2 linked regions of the Homo sapiens genome follow. The protein of the gene in region 1 purifies or fractionates together with the protein of each later gene. This does not show direct contact. Each region holds a gene or a part of one and is shown on either strand. Other genes may lie near its edges.

What was found. The genes of interacting proteins can lie anywhere in the genome.
Region 2: the proteins of VIPR1 (region 1) and DYM purify together in Homo sapiens (co-immunoprecipitation; 3 studies listed by BioGRID and IntAct, with this or other methods). This does not show direct contact.

The regions. Positions count from the first base shown.
Region 1 is NC_000003.12:42,504,895-42,512,999, reverse strand, and holds part of VIPR1 (vasoactive intestinal polypeptide receptor 1 isoform 1 precursor), read right to left. Parts: intron 250-8,105; exon of another isoform or gene 51-249; intron 1-50. UniProt on the Homo sapiens protein: G protein-coupled receptor activated by the neuropeptides vasoactive intestinal peptide (VIP) and pituitary adenylate cyclase-activating polypeptide (ADCYAP1/PACAP).
Region 2 is NC_000018.10:49,331,268-49,339,372, forward strand, and holds part of DYM (dymeclin), read right to left. Parts: intron 2,587-8,105; coding exon 2,461-2,586; intron 740-2,460; coding exon 597-739; intron 1-596. UniProt on the Homo sapiens protein: Necessary for correct organization of Golgi apparatus. Involved in bone development.

The DNA.
Region 1 (8,105 bases):
CTGGCCAGGGATCAGGGGTGGGCCAGACCAGTGTGACTGGGGTCACTGACCTTGTGGAAGACATGTGAGTGGGGGTGATGGCTGTCTAGGAATAGCCAGAAAAAACAGGTCTTGGGAACTCTTAGATGGGTGTGGGTGGGTGAAGGCCTCCATGGAGGAAGCGTTGGACTGGCAGCACCTTCTGCGTCTTTGGCTTTAGAAAAGTGGTTGCTGGCCCCGGCAACCCCACACCAGTTTCCTCATCTCTGCCTGGGAGAAGAATGTCAGTTTCCACCAGGGCCATAGAAGAGAGTCCAGCAAGACCACTCCAGAATCAGACATTCTCAGTGTCTCCTCCAGCTTGTCCCTCCCACCCTGGGACAGGGTCCTTACCTCCCTGGGCCTCAGTTTCTCTGTAGGCTACGTGGGCCTCAACCACCTCCCCTGCCGACTTAGAGATTCTTGAAGTGGGTCCGTGGGAAGAACATAGGTGGGGGACCTTCCTTTAAGGGGGTCCCTCCTGGCCTGCAGGCACCAAAGTGCTTAGTACTTTGACCATTGTTTTAAGTAAATCAGCTCCATTTACTGGGATGTGCATCCCAGCTGGCAGCCAGCAATCCATTGCTGCGGAGGGAGAGGGGTCCAAGCTGAAGCTGAACAACTCAGTGCCTAAGAAGCTGCACAGCCAAGTCCTTTCCACCCCAAACAGCTCTCTCATTCCTGTTGAGGGCTCTCTGGTGGAGCCTCTGTCTCACAGGTCACCTGCAGGCCAACACTCCCAGAAGCAGCTAGCACCATGGTTGACCTCGTCCAGGTCCAGGGAAGGCCTCCCTCTCCAGGACTCCTTTAGATTTCCCCAGCATCCAGACCTCACCTGCCTAAGTGCTGTTGCCCTGGAAGCCACAGTGAGCACGAGCTCCATCTTGCACCTTTACCAGCCAATGGGGGTAAAGACATTAGCTGGTAAGTCATTTAAAACTTATTGAAAGTAACACAGTTGTGTGATGGAGCATGATACAGTTACTCGTATAACTGTTAAAAGATAGGAGACTTCAAGGAAACTGTCTGTGGTTCCTCTTTGGGGTCATGTGCTTTCTCTCCTTCCCATAAGGGTTACTCAGGCTGAAATGCTCAAGACACTCTGTCTCAAGGGATTTGTGGCTGTTTCATCCTCAAGTATAGGGGGAATAGTGGCCAGGAAGATCTCAGAGGTGGCTTCTGGAAGAGGAATCTGGGTACTGGCTACCCTGCCTTGTGTCCCATCATTGGTCTGTCTTGCCTGTCTTGGAGCACATTTCTCACCAAGGTACCATCCCAACCCCATCTCCCACCAGCAACAGGGTTCTTTCTGCTTTCTGGCCCCTTCCCAGCGTCTCCTGATTCTCCTGTCCATTCTTATCTCTCATAACACTGTAACGTCAAAACAGGATGGATGGTAGCAGATATCTCTTGTTTCTGCCTTCCACCATCCTTTACTCTCTTCTGGTGCCATGTCCTCATCTGTGTCTGGGAAACAACCTCCTTCCCTACCTCTAGTTCATGGAGTTCTGATGAACCCTCTTCCAGGGGATTGACATGTGACCAAGGCTTAAGTCCATCAGAGCATTCCTGGCCACAGTGCCTGACACATGGCCTGAGTCAGGCTACTCAGAGCCAGGAGGCTCACTCCTGGGACTTTGGATTAAGTGATTAAGAAAGTGAATTTGGTTTTTCCCCACTGGACTGGAAACCTTAAAGGAAGCAAGGGCTCAAGCTTCTGCTGTCTTCTTGTTGACAAGTGGAACACACGGATAAAAACTATACAGCTGAAGGCAGAATAGAGAGATGGAGAAAAATCAGGTTCTCTTAATATTGTCTGGGTCTGTGAATGCAGCCATGCCTGAAACCAGCTCTACTGCTAGCAACATGAGCTGATGCCTTTCCTTTATGGCTTGGATCAGTTGAGTTTTCTGTTGGTCGCTGTAAACAAAAGTGTCCAGCCTTGCCCTCTGAGGACAAGATAATGGACGCCCTCACTTTCTGGGCCTTCTTAAGCCAGGACTGTGGCCATATAGTTTGCCAAGAAATATTTGTTTCCCAATCACCATGGGCGCCTAGGATTTCTGGCAGCTTCTGCTTGCGACTCTCTGAGGGTAGAAGAGTGTTGGGTCAACTTCTCCAGCCAACTCTGCCCCCTCAGCAGCACAGACACACAGCCCTTCCTTAGAGGCAGTTTGGAGAGAAAGGAGGGGTGGGTACCGAAGCCTGTGGTGTTTATGAAACAGTGGGTGTGGTCTGGAAGATGAGCTCTCTCTTTGTCACAATTTAGTTTAGTGTTGAGCCCTATCTGGGGAGGGGTAGAGGAAATGGAGACCCAAAGAGGGACCTGAGGTCACCCAGCAAATGCGCATTCCCAGATGGGACCTAAGTCTCTGACCGCTGGTCTGGACTGCATCAATCCTTCAACACAGCCTCGCCTTGGACCCTCTGGTCAACCATTGCCCTTTGAGGGACCGGGCCAGGGCAGCTCCCTCTAGTCCTTATCACTAAGGAATTCAGGCAGACTTTGGACTTCCTCTCCCACTTATTTATTTCCCTATTCTAAACATCCTCATTATCCCTCTGGACTTCAGGAACACAGAGAGAGTTGAAAAATTCCCTGGCTGAATATAGCCAAGTCTACTGATGTCAGGGAAGTGTTCCAGGGTGGGATATAGCTGGAGTCTGGGCTTCCTACAGAATGGGTATGCTGTACTCATTCTGTAGAGGTAGGTCATGGAGGATGTGCAAGTTAGACAATTAGAAGTGGAGTAAGAGCACCCCAGAAAGTAGAGCAGCGTGTGCACAGGCATGGAGGCATGAAAATGCCTAATACATGCAAGGCTGTGAGAAGCCTGGTGTAGCTGCAGCAAGGAGTTCTGGGGGCATCAGGAGACAAGTTGAGAGATGTAGACTGGGGTAGGATTGGGAAGGGCCTGGAATGCCAGTTTTCAAGTGTGAGCTTTCACTCCTAGGCCATGGGGGCCAACAGAGACTTGAAGCAGGAGACTGAGGATGGGGGATACACATTTTACAAAGATCCCTCAGGTTGCAGGTGGTGGGGCTGAAAGCTACTGCACCAGTCCAGGCAGGAACTGATGAAGCCTGGGCAGGACAGTGGGTATAAAGAGAGGGCACAGAGAGGAGGGGGCAGGTGGAATGAACAAGACTTGGTTAGTCCCTGTCTCCAACTAGACTCAGGATTCTCCTGCCAACTCCCTGTCATTCACCTCCCACATCCCGCTAGCCCCATGGCAGAGGACAGAAGAAGACCAGGATGGAGAAGATGCTGTGGACTTCTTCAGTCTTCTTCAGCCTGGGTCCCTTCTGGGCTTAGGAACTCCTGCCCCAAAGAAGGTGCTGAGAGCCCAGCCTGGACCAAAACTCTCTAGCCTCAGCTCAACGGCAGGGTCAGGCTGCCTTTAAGCTTACTTTTTGGAGCTCAGTCAAGCATAGGAATTGGTGAGGGGCTAGAGAGAAAGCCCTGCTTTTTCCTGTCCATGTGGGGTTCTCTGAGATCTGGAGCAAAGGCTAGGTGTGGTGATGGGGGTATGGGTGAAGATGCTGGGAGTTGTAGCTGTTAGATGCAAGGGGCTCTGAAAGACAGGGTGGGCCATGCTCAGGTTCGTAGGCCATGTTCAATCCCCTCAAGGGAAGCCTGAGACCACAGCTACTGCCTCGAATCAGAAGCCCCAGCCTCATCATCTGGGGCCAGAGAACTAGGGCAGGAGGAGCCAAGTAGCACAGCAGGAAGCATGAGTCCCTCCGAGGAGAAGCTGGTCTCTGAGAGGAGCACAGAATGCAGCAGGCTGGATAAGGTGAGGCAGGAGAAAGAACTGTCTGCAAATTGCCAAGCATGCAGAGCCTCCATGGATGATTTGTGCTTCTGAGGTTTGTCAAGAGGGCTATTTTATTTTTTTCCAGCCTGCAACTGTTAATGGAGGCAGGGGAATGGGGAGTAGAGGACAGGGGGCTCAGGAGTGGTTTCATTTACCCTCTCCCACATGACCCTAGCCCTTTACAGAAACCATCTCATATCTCACGACTTATTTACTCTACTCTGCCAGCCCCCTGCTGAAATCATGGGGTAAAAAAGAGACACAGGGGGAATGGAGGAGCCAGAGAGAAAGCAGTGTGATCACAGGCACACAGGACAGCAGCTCACCTTCCCATCCTTGCTGGCTTTTGCACGTGAGTGGGCGAGAACGTGCAGCCCTTGTAGTTGGGAGGCAAGAGGGGAGAGAGGAGAGAAAAGGTGGGAGGAGGAAGGGCAGAAAAGGAGTGGGTAAAGGACATAAGTTGGATCATGGGATCCAGGAGTCACAAAAGAAAGGAGAAACATGCTCCCAGCTTTGCAGAGAGCACTAAAGGAAATCAAAATAAGACTTCCCCTCATTGCAGGGCAGCCTGCTAGGGTGATGGGAATGTATAATAGTTTGACCTGGGCAGTGGTGACACAGGTGTACACATATGTGACAATTCACTGAGCTGTCAATTCAGATTTCTATATTTTACTAATTTTAAAAATATCTAAAGTCCCAGCGCAGCATGTGACACGCCGTCGCCCACCCTGGAAGTAGTAGCCCCTCTTCACGAGGTGGCAGAGCCTAGTTCAGACCACAGGTTCCAGAATGAGACTGTCTGCTGCTTCCTGGCTGGATGACTTGGGCAATTTACTCAACTTCATCTATAAAATGGGGACAATAACAATACCACCTACTTCTAGAATTGGGGTTGAGGGTCACATGTAAAAGACACCAGCCAGGCACCAGGGGGGTTAGCAGCGACTGCCAAAGCTCTAGTCCAGTCCTCATGCCAGGCTGCCCCTGCTGTCCACATCCAAGCCTAGCCACAGCCGTAGTGCCTTGCATAACCCCAGGTAGGCTGAAGGTCCTACCCACTGACAAGTGCCAGCCGTACCCACCAGAGGTCTCAAGTCTGCCAGTTACCTTCGCCCCGTACTGATTTCTCTTCCTTGTATTTTTACATCCCTTAGCCAACAGCCCAAAGCCTCCCCGCTGCAAATTCTTTTTTTTTTTTTTTTTTGCCAGCCTCACTTCCTCTTGGGGAAGGCTGAGCTCTGGTAGAAGAAGAGAATGAGAACTGCTGTGTGAGTGTTGATGGGGATGGGGAGGAAGAGGGGGAGACATAAGGATACAGGATTGTGCTTTGGGTAAGAAGAACTTTCCACATCTCAGAGTGATATCAGGACAAGGGCTCTCATAATTAGCAGAACCCAAGCACAGACACTTAGCTTGTTCCCATCTAAGGGTTCTTCTTGGAAGGTTTCTTTTGGGGGCATGAAGCCTTTATTTGCAGAGGAACACAGGCTAAGCATTTAGTTTAAATCCTCTGCTGCTTGTTCACGATCCTGGCCACACCTAGGGAACTGGAGTTTGCAGGACTCAGCTTATAAACACAGTGCCTGTGGGTGACGTTGGTGTTGGAGCCACCTGCAGAGGGCTGGACTCCAGCACAGGCAGCCACAAGGCTATGAGTCCTTAGTACATGGAGATTGGTTGGTGGCCTCTTCCCCCTCCTCTGGTGACCTGCTGTGCAGGAAGAACTTGTTTTGAAGTTAGGTAGTAGGAGGCACTTCCTGAGAGATAATGGGCCGCATGAGAGGGGCTGCACGAAAAGACTGGGTCCTCCCAGTGGAGGCTAGCCTGAGGCTCACTGCCAAGGCACCCTGCTTTCTCCCTGCCAGCTCGCTGGACAGTCCCGTCAGACACAGACATGAAACTCCTGCGAGAAGACCAAGCCCTGGATAATATCACCACTCATCCTGTGGCACTTCATTACATTCCGGCTGGGGATATTTGAATATTAGATATTAAGCAATTCCTGTCAATTTTGTTAGGTGTGTAATGACAGTATCATAGTTATATAGAAGAGTGTCCTTTGGTTTTAGAGATGCATTCTGAAATGATTTGGGGTAAAAGGTCAGGAGGTTTATAATTTACTTTAAAATACTTCAGCCCAAAAGCAAATGAAGCATATATTAATTGTTAGATGTTAACAATTGTCAAACCTCGGAATTGGGTATTTGCACGTTCATTATAATGTTGTCTCTGCTTGTTTAAAAATTTTCACAAAAAAAGTAAAAATTTAAAACACTATACACGTGGTGGAGAGATTAAACTGTTTTTTTCTTCTTCAGAAATACTTCTAAGGGGCCAGGCGTGGTGACTCATGCTTGTAATTCCAAGCACTTTGGGAGGCTGAGGCAGGTGGATCACCTGAAGCCAGGAGTTCAAGAGCAGCCTGGCCAACATGGCGAAACCCTGTCTCTACTAAAAATACAAAATTTAGCCAGGCATGGTGGCGGGAGCCTGTAATCTCAGCTCCTAGGGAGGCTGAGCCAGAAGAATCGCTTAAACCTGGAAGCTGGAGGTTGCAGTGAGCCAAGATCACACCACCACACTCCAGCCTGGGTGACAGAGCAAGACTCCATCTCAAAAAGAAAAAAAAGAAAAAAAGGAAATACTTCTAAGTTATGTGAGAGAGTACATACTGACATTTTCAATGGGTACAATAAAAATCATTTTGTGTTAAGAAGTCAGAGAGGGGAAGGCAGAATCTGGGGGTTGAACAGAAGGATTTAAGAAAGGGACTAGGCTTTACATAGTCCCCAGGCCCCATTCCCTGCTCCATGGCCAAAGGAGCCACAGTGAAGGGCCCAGCAATGGCAGAGTTGTGGCACGTGGCAGGTTAGAGCCCCTACCCTGGTCTCATGGCCCATGTTGGATTTCCACTGAGGCTGCCCACGTTGTGAAGGCCCATCTGCTCTGAGAGGCCCCATTGCCTACCTAGGCCTGGAGCCTTACCCCCAAAATGTTTTGGCCACCTAATGAGGAAACGTCCCCCATTCCCCAGGACTCCTGCTGCCCTGGGAACCTGTGGGAAGATGGGGGCCAGAAATAGCTGTATAAGTTTGCACAGGGCTCCCAAGCTGGGGACGTAGGAGAAGGGATGACAGTCACACAGTTCACATAGCCACCTTCACAACCTTTACCTCCTTCAAAGCTCACAGAAGTCCTGCTTGAAAGACAAACCCCCTTTCACAGAGACCCTGGTGCTCCAGGGGTAGATTATGTCCCACTCAGGAGGCAGAGTTGGCTCCAGCCTAACCCTCTCCTCCCACTTCTCCTGCACACTGGGCGGAGGCCTCTCACCTTCCCTTTTGTGGTGAGGAACCCGAGGCCCTTCCACAAAAGTTAAAGATGTTCCCAAGGTCAAGCCATTGCCATGGAGTGGAGTGAGGACCAGCTCTCCTGTTTCCAGCCTGGGCTCCCCAAGGATGTCCCACAAACCTCAGAGAAGGCATAGTCTTAGTGCACCAGGACAGGAGGGTAGAAACTTCCAAAAGGGCTCGCTTTTCCAGCATGGTACCCTGGGAGCCCTGGCCAGGCCTAACTGAGGTGGTAACCTCACTTGAGGAGGAGGCCTGACCCAGATGCAGCCATGTTTCCCAAAGCTCACAGGGTGGCCTGCTGGGGGCCAAGAGGGCCTGGGCAGCTGTGGTCCGCCTCTGGAGAGGCTAGAGGCAGGTGGCAGGGGCAGCAGGATGCCGGTGGCAAGGCAAGGCCTTCAGGAGCTTGTGGCCACTGATCAACCTCAGAGTTGGGGAGAAGTCGAGCCTCTCCCAGTCCCTGGGACTCCTCCTTCTGGGGGCAGGCCCATTGGTCCTGTCAACAGAGGCTGTTTTATGGTTTAGGGTGAAAGATTGGCCCATCTGGTCAAACTCTTTAGGGCACAGTCCTGCTTCTTCCAGGAGCCTCCCCTGACTGTTCCTCTCAGCAACCCCTGCCCCAGTTCTAGGAGGCTGTACCCCACATCCACCTGGACTCTTTCTCCTAAGTCACTGGGTCTGGTCTCCCACACCAGATAGAGAATTTCCCACGAGGAGGCCTGTGACCCTCCTCCCCCAGCCTCGTACTGGGCATTGCCCTGAGCAGCTCTGCTTCTGGATGAGGAGTCCCTGTGCCTGCTGTCCGGGGGGCAGGGGCAGTGGAAGGCTTGACAGGTGGCCTTGGGGCAGACTTCCTCCTCTGAGACACTGGAGGTTTTCTTTCCTTTTTTTTTTTTTTTTTTTTTTTTGCCTCCCT
Region 2 (8,105 bases), on another chromosome or scaffold:
TCTAGTGTCTGTAGTCTGAATACTGTGAAGTGAAGCAGAAATGAGGACTTATTGTAAGGTAGGGAAGAGCTTTCTTCACTTAAGAAATCTGCACCCAATCAAACAAAACTCAAGTTTGTGCCATTTCACAGCTTATTACAAAATTCTGCAAAATATTCAGTTGTCACTGAAGAAAGCACTTAGTGTAATAGGAAAACTGCACCTAATTAGTCACATGAAATCCTAACCAAAATATACCCTAAAATAACCTAAAATAGATTTCCTCTTATAATACAAGTAGTGTTATAAGTTTTCAAATGCTTAATTTTATTTTTACTATACAGCTACAATTCATGCAATACGCATATTTATGTGTAAACATTCTTCCTGAAAAACGATGTTTTGTAGGTAATCCATTCATTATTTGCATACATTTTACATAAATCACCGCACAAAACAGAAAGATTAATATTTTAATTACTTTGTTTTCACATTGAACCAGCTGCACAAATTCAATGTAACTATTAATGGTGGCAGCCAAGCAAACAGAATTTCTTATGCCTAAATAGATAAAATTTATGTGCACCAAAGAATTGAAAAAATCTGATAAAACTTACTTGCTACTCCTGATGCAAGTCCATAAAGCAGTCCTCCCCCATCCGACTGCTGAGGGAAAACATGGGCCCCTGGAGGAGGTGGCTTTTCTTGTCTGATAAAGTTATATAATAAGGTCTTCACAAGTTTGCTGGTGTATGGAAGACTATACAAAAAGGAAAAAAAAATCAAACTCATATTTATGGGAGTCATCTAATTCTGAATAACAATACAGAAATAATTCTGCCATTAACACTATCTGTTAATACAAAAGGGCTATTGGCACAACTCACAGAAATTGAGCACTGCACACAACAGTGAAGACCATGGGCTTTGAGAGCAATTTTGAGGCTTAATCCTTGCTTTTCCTCTTATCACATCATAAGATATTGATCAAATTACTTAAATACTTTTTTTCTGCAGTGGGGAGAAACAAGGTCTGGTAGAGACAAGGTCTCACTATGTTGCCCAGGCTGGTCTCAAACTCCTAAACTCAAGCGATCCTCCCGCTTCAGCCTCCCAAAGTGCTGAGATTACAGGCGTGAGCCACCGTGCCCAGCCCACTTGAACTCTTGAACTCCAGTTACTTTATCTACATTCGGTATAACACTGTGAGCTATTATAAATTTAGTGCATAACACATTATCTGGCAATTGAAGGGAAGTAGTAATAAAGAATCAGTAGAAAAAAGCAAGAATTTAAAAATAACAATAGGACTACACTTTTTAAGTATGAAATTATTCAATTATTCAATTGGTATTAAACTAATTCCTGCAATATAGAGTAAACTTTTTAACAGATTCTTTAATGTACTATTGAGCTTTTTAAATATGGTTTCCAAGATGAACCCCAAAAATAAGTAAAGAACATATTACGGTTTAAATATGTGGCACCATAATGATACTATAAAAACCTTACTTAGAAAATAAGAACACTAACACCCTCTATGTCTATTTTTAAAAAGCAACTTGAATACTCTGGCACTATAAGGGATGAAGTTCACAATCTTGTTTCAGCAAAGATGCACACAGTCCCACGATGCCAGCACTACTTCAAACCACGGTCATTCTGAGTGTCATTCTGAGTGTCTCTGTCAGAGAGGGTTCCAATGCAAACCTCTGACTCCAAAGCCCAGATCCTTTCCCTCAGTGATTTTCAAATATGTTCAAAGAACATACATGCCACAGGAATAATCAGGGTAGCAAAAAGAATATGAAGAAGACAAAGCTCCCCACTATCTGAGAACTTTCCTCAAAGGTACTTTATTTGGATTTGTTTTACATTTTTAAAGTTTTGTGAAGATTATGTTAATAAAAGGTCAGGTATGTGCATATGTGTTGGTCATTTGCATCCACACCCTCTAGGAGATCGTAAGCTTCTGCTCAAGAGCATAGCCCCACAGTCTAACATGCCTGGCACATGGATAGCACACAGCAAATATTTGCAGGCTCAAAGAAGTAGGAATAGTCAGCGAAGAGGCTGCTGGAGAAGTCCAAAGAGAGTAAGGGGGCATAGATCACAGGTGTTTCAAAGGGACTGCTGAGAAGAGGAAGATACAAAAATAATCTGAATAACAAATATGACTTGACTGCTTAAACATAGACAGAATGAAGGAGATGGAAGAAAAAGATGATTTCAAAGTTTCAATTCTACGAAGCAACCACTGGAGAAGGTAATGAAGCTACGGGACAGGAAGAACAGGGAGGATGGGTAGATGGCACAGGAAAGTAGAATGCGGTTCCCTATGCACTGGGTTTAAAGAGACAATAGAACAACTAGAGGAAATACCTGGTTGGAGATATGGGACGATACTCAGGTAAAAGGACAAGACTAGAAATATAGATTTATACAATGAAAAAACTAGACATACTTAAAGTAGAAACATACCATGGACCTCGCATCAAATACTTGTGGCTGATGCTCTGTCGCAAAACTTCTTTGTGGAAGAGTTGGCAGGAAAGGAAAACAACCATTGTTGATATAGCTTCTACTGATATTTCATATGTAATATCTCTAAAATGGAAGAAAAACAGAGTAACAGTCACTTTGGAAGATTAAGACACTATTCTTTTCTAAATGAACTATACATTTAAAAACTCAAATCTAAATATTCAGTATTTTCAGGTTACTGAAAAATGTTAATACGTTTAATACAAAAATTAAGTCAAGCAAAAATATTAAACTCCTTCCCTGTCATTAGCTGGTGTATTTGGGTTAGTTATCCCTTTATTTCCCTATTTTCCAGTTTCCATCTCCTATTAAATGACAAGTCTATTTATGTATAATGGAAATAGTTACTAGCAGTGTTCTGTTTTGAAGATTCACTCTAGACATCTATGTTCATTTCTGTTTAGTGATAATACAGAGACAAATACTCAGATTGTAAAGCTGAAGAGAAGGTACAGTGTAGGGAAGAAAACAATGCCTTTTCATGTTGATGATCACTTTACAATCAGAACAATAATACACCCTAGATCTTGTGTCTCTAGTGCCTACCTTTCTCAAGGTCAACTTTGCATGTTCAGCAAAATATTAACAGTAAACAAGTTATTCCTGTTTTATTAAGCATATTTTGATTATGAAGGGTTACTCTGTCCTCTCAAGATCATAAACCCCTTTGGGAAACAAGTCTTAGATCAAATAAAAAGAAAAAGATTCAGCTGAACAGAAAGCACACAGAGGAATAAAGGCATCCAGAAATTTCCAGTTACTGCAAAAGTTTAAACAGGATTATAATGGGGAACATGTTAAGACCAAGGAAGTAGAAACCTCAACAACGCAGTAAAAAGAGCAATAGCACCAAAAGAATACTAAAATATTTTTATAAAAATGAAATAATTATGAAAAACAAAGAAAAATACTTAACACCTACTTAAATGAAAGCTCATTAAACAAATTAATGATGACTTGATTCTAGAACTAGAAAAATTTAAATTCTACCAGATATCTTAAGGAGTTATTACTGATAGAAATATGTTTAAAAGGCCAGGCTCAGTGGCTCACGCCTGTAATCCCAGCACTTTGGGAGGCCAAAGCGGGTGGATCACCTGAGGTCAGGAGTTTGAGACCAGCCTGGCCAACATGGTAAAACCCCATCTCTGCTAAAAATACAAAAAATTAGCTGGGCATGGTGGCGGGCACCTGTAATGCCAGCTACTAGGGAGGCTGAGGCAGGAGAATGGCTTGAACCTGGGAGGCGGAAGTTGCAGTGAGCCAAGATCGTGCCATTGCACTCCAGCCTTGGCGATAAGAGCGAAACTCCATCTCAAAAACAAAAAATAAAGAAAGAAAAAGAAATATATTTAAAAATGACATATAAAAAAAGAAAAACACAAGAGACCCACGCAATTAGCCTTATTACGTGGTTGAATAAAGCTCAGCTCTACTCAGAAATCTGACTTTTAAAGTATTGTAGAACAATCTCTTTCCTGAAATTTCCATAATCACTGTTGTAAAAATTAACCTGTAAAAAGCAATTCTTGGGCATAGTGGCACATGCCTGTAATCCCAGCTACTCAGGAGGCTGAGGCACTAGAACCCAGAAGGTGGAGGTTGCAGTGAGCTGAGATTACACCACTGCACTCCAGCCTGGGCAACAGAGTGAGACTCTTGTCTCAAAAAATAAAAATAAAAAATTTAAAAAATAAAATAAAGCAATTCTTGTATTTGTTCTTCTTTCATGAATTGAATGAAAGACAAACTTGATGTTTCATGTCATGTTATGATTTACTAATGATGATTTGATTTGGGTGCTCAGAACCCCCAAAAATTTTGTATCACAATAATCATTCATTCAAAACATAGCCCACGCCTGTCTGGAATCCATACACAATAGTCTCCTGGCTAGGCTTTTCACCTGGGTCAGAGTTTAAAGCCAAATCCTGACATAACAAATACTTGGCTGTGAGTTAGAGCCTATTTAGATAGGCAGATGGATGACTATGTCCAATACATTTGCAAACGTTTTCTGTCTTTTTTTTTTTTCTTTTTGGAGACAGGGTCTGTGTCTGTCACCTAGGCTGACACCTAGTGGCGCGATCTTGGCTCACTGCAACCTCCACCTCCCAGGCTCAAGTGATCCTCCTGCCTTAGCCTCTCAAGTAGCTGGGACTACAGGCAGACGCCATCATGCCCAGCTAATTTTTGTCTTTTTTACAAAGAGGGGGTTTTACCATGTTGCCCAGGCTGATCTGGAACTCCTGTGCTCAAGTGATCTGCCTGCCTGGGGCTCCCAAACTGCTGGGATTACAGGCATGAGCCATCGTGCCAGACTGCAAATGTATTTTGTCATTGCATCAATAATAAAGAATCAGCTGTGGTGGTTTACAATTTAACATCTTACTGTATGCCTCAGATCTAGAAACAAATTGTTTTACTAAATTGTTTTAGTTTTGCTTAAACCAAAATCTATGACTATTAATAATTACTAGGTCTAATAACCTTAGGGAAAGAATACGTATTTAGAAAAAAGTGTTCTTCTCCTTCAAAATTAATTGGGCCAAACACAATCAGAAGTGAGAGAACAAAAAAAGTGTTAACCTTGGATCATCCTCTCTTACCGTGGAATCCTATAAATGTAGAAGAATGAAGAGTAGAGGGTTTGATGCTGGGAGGTAAGGAAAGCTTCCAGCACATAAGAATACTGAAGCAATACAACATGACAATAAGAGTCACTGCAAGCTAAAAACCCATTTCCCCAAATTCCTAAACAGAACCATGTGTGTCTTCCGTAGGCCCAGAGAAACAAATTATATCAAATTGCTTATCACACAGTATTTTTGCTCATATGATGTTCAACAAATATTGATTAAAAATTTATTCTTACTATCTCTAGACAGGCATTATGCTACATATTGGGGACATATCCATCAACAAATAGACAAGGCTCCTGCCTTTATGAAGCTTACAATTTAGTGGAAAAAAGAAAAATCAAATAATAATCACTCCAAAAAGGACTATAAAGGAAAAAAACAAGTAATAACAGGAGAGGATTACAGGACACTCTGATAGTAACTATGGGATCAAAAGAAAGCGTCTCTTAAAAAGTGGCATTTAAAACCTGGAGTATGAGTGGCAATTACTTACAAATCTTTCTTACTATAATATATGAGACTCTAGCTAGAGAACCTTTCATTTTTGCTGTTGTTTATATTCTCAACTCTAGTATATAATAGGTACTCAATGGATAAATAAATGGAAAGATGGAGGGATCTTTACTGTTTTCATTTTGACTGGAAACTTATTGAATACCTTCCTTAATAGATCCATCAGCAAAGCGTACAAGGCATATATAACTTAGGATAGCAAAGAGGAAGAAGAATGCTGAGGTCAGGTAATATGTATTCATAAGCACAAATGGAATACTCATTGCAACAAAAATGTAAAGGGAATTTCATGAAAGAAGGATCCAGAATGTTGTTGACTGGCTTACAGCTGTCCTCTGTTGATTTTGCCTGACCAACATCCACCTCCTGTTCTTCTGGCAAAAGCAGCCCTTTTGTCCTCCTGAGAACCTCCCTCCCCTCCATACATGTGGATTGGATGGGGCACGACTCTGCCTTCTGGTGATCCACGTTTGGCCAATAAAAATGGTCTTTGTCAAAATCCTTCCCAGCACTTCTGGAACTATCAGAAAAGAGGCACTCTCTCCTTCTGAGATTGTGAGTGCTAAGAACTATGTATGGATAGAGCTGCTACTGGTTTTCTCTGTCGATGGATCCTGCCTGAGAACATAGCCAATCACAGCAGTGACAAGAGATTGAGAACATCACAGCAGTGACAAGAGATTGAGGGGGAAGGAGCAAAAAGGAGAGAAGAAAGAGAGGAGTCCTAGTGAAGAGTCAGCGGAATAATCAAACATAGAAAAAGAAATTACTATGAAATCCGGCAAATCCCATGAAAGAATATGAACTATCTGTATTAGGAACACAGAGATAACAGCAACCAATTCTGCCTGGGTCAGAAGGGAAATTCTTCACAAAGATGATGATATTTGAGCAGACGAAGAACAAGAAGAAGGGGAAGGGCATTAAAGTGAAGAAACCATACAAAGGCAGCCACAAAAAGGTCTGGTAGTTTTGAAGGAAAATAAGAAATTCAATATCGATCAAACAGATTAAAAGAAGGTGGGGGAAAGGGGTGGGAGCAAAGGGACTCGAACTGGGAGTTGAGAAATTAATAAAATGGAAAAAGTATGTATATATTGGAGAAGTTAGATTAAAACAGTTATTAAAAAATCAAGAAACTATTCAAATAAATTTAAAAATCCAACTAGGCCAGATACAAGATCAACTTTGAAAGATAAATAGCATTTCTCCTTAGCAGCACTAACCAACAATAGTAGGTTATCAAAAACAAAACAGCATTTTGCAAGACTGCCAGAATAACTAAAATGTTTGGAATAAAATGTTTTGGTCCTTCATAGGACATCTATGAAGAAAAACATTTAAAAAGGACACAGTGGATGATCTGAACAGAATGACAATACTATGAAGATAATAATTCTACCCAGATTAATACAGAAAGTCAACGAATCACAACCAAAATTCTCACTCGACTTTTTTGAGGAACTGCATAAATTGACTCACTTTTATGAAATAATAAACAAATAGCCAAGTCAACCTTGACAATAAAGAATGAAGAGGGGCACTTTCCCTACTGGATATCAAGCCACTCTATACAGCTGTAGTAAGAAAAACAGCATGGTATTTGTATAAAAAGTAAACAAACCAAAGGACCCCAATTGATAATTCAAAGACAGACCTGTGTATATATGGAAATAATATACAATAAAGATTACGATTACTCCACAAATCAATGAAGAAAAACACATTGTACAGAAGATGGTAATGGGAAACACCTCTTTTATTTCATAATGACAGATCCCTACACCTTACAACATACTCAAGACCTACTACAGAAGACTTAATGACTTAGATGTGAATAAAACTAAAGTTGATAGAAGGAAGAGTACAATAAGTTTGTAACATAAGCACAAGAAAGGACTTATTAAATAAAAGCCTAAGAACACAAACCACAAAGGCAAAAATTACACATTAAATTACATCAGAATTAAAGATTACTGCTCAGCAAATGAATCCCTGGACAAAGTTAACAGGCAGATAATAGACTGAAAGAAGAACACGAAACTAATATCAAGGCTATTACAAATAACTCCTGCCAACAACCAATAAAAAGGCAGGAACTCTGCTAGAAAAAAAAAATCAAAAGATATAAACAGGCAATCTGAAACAAGGTGATATGCCCCTATGCCCTAGAGAATGTAATGTGTTGCCAGGCATGTGGTGATATAAAAACCCTCATGCTCTGCTGATGGGAATACTAACCAGCATAGTCAGTTTTAGAGAACCTATGTCCATTCACACAGACACACAGACACACACGCGTGCATGCGCACGTGCCAAAGAAAAATCCACAGAGATATGTCTGAGAAATATAGTAGGCATCCTCTAAAATGACCCCAATCATGCCTGCTTCCTGCTATTCATGCCCTTGTGTAATCCCCTCCCCTC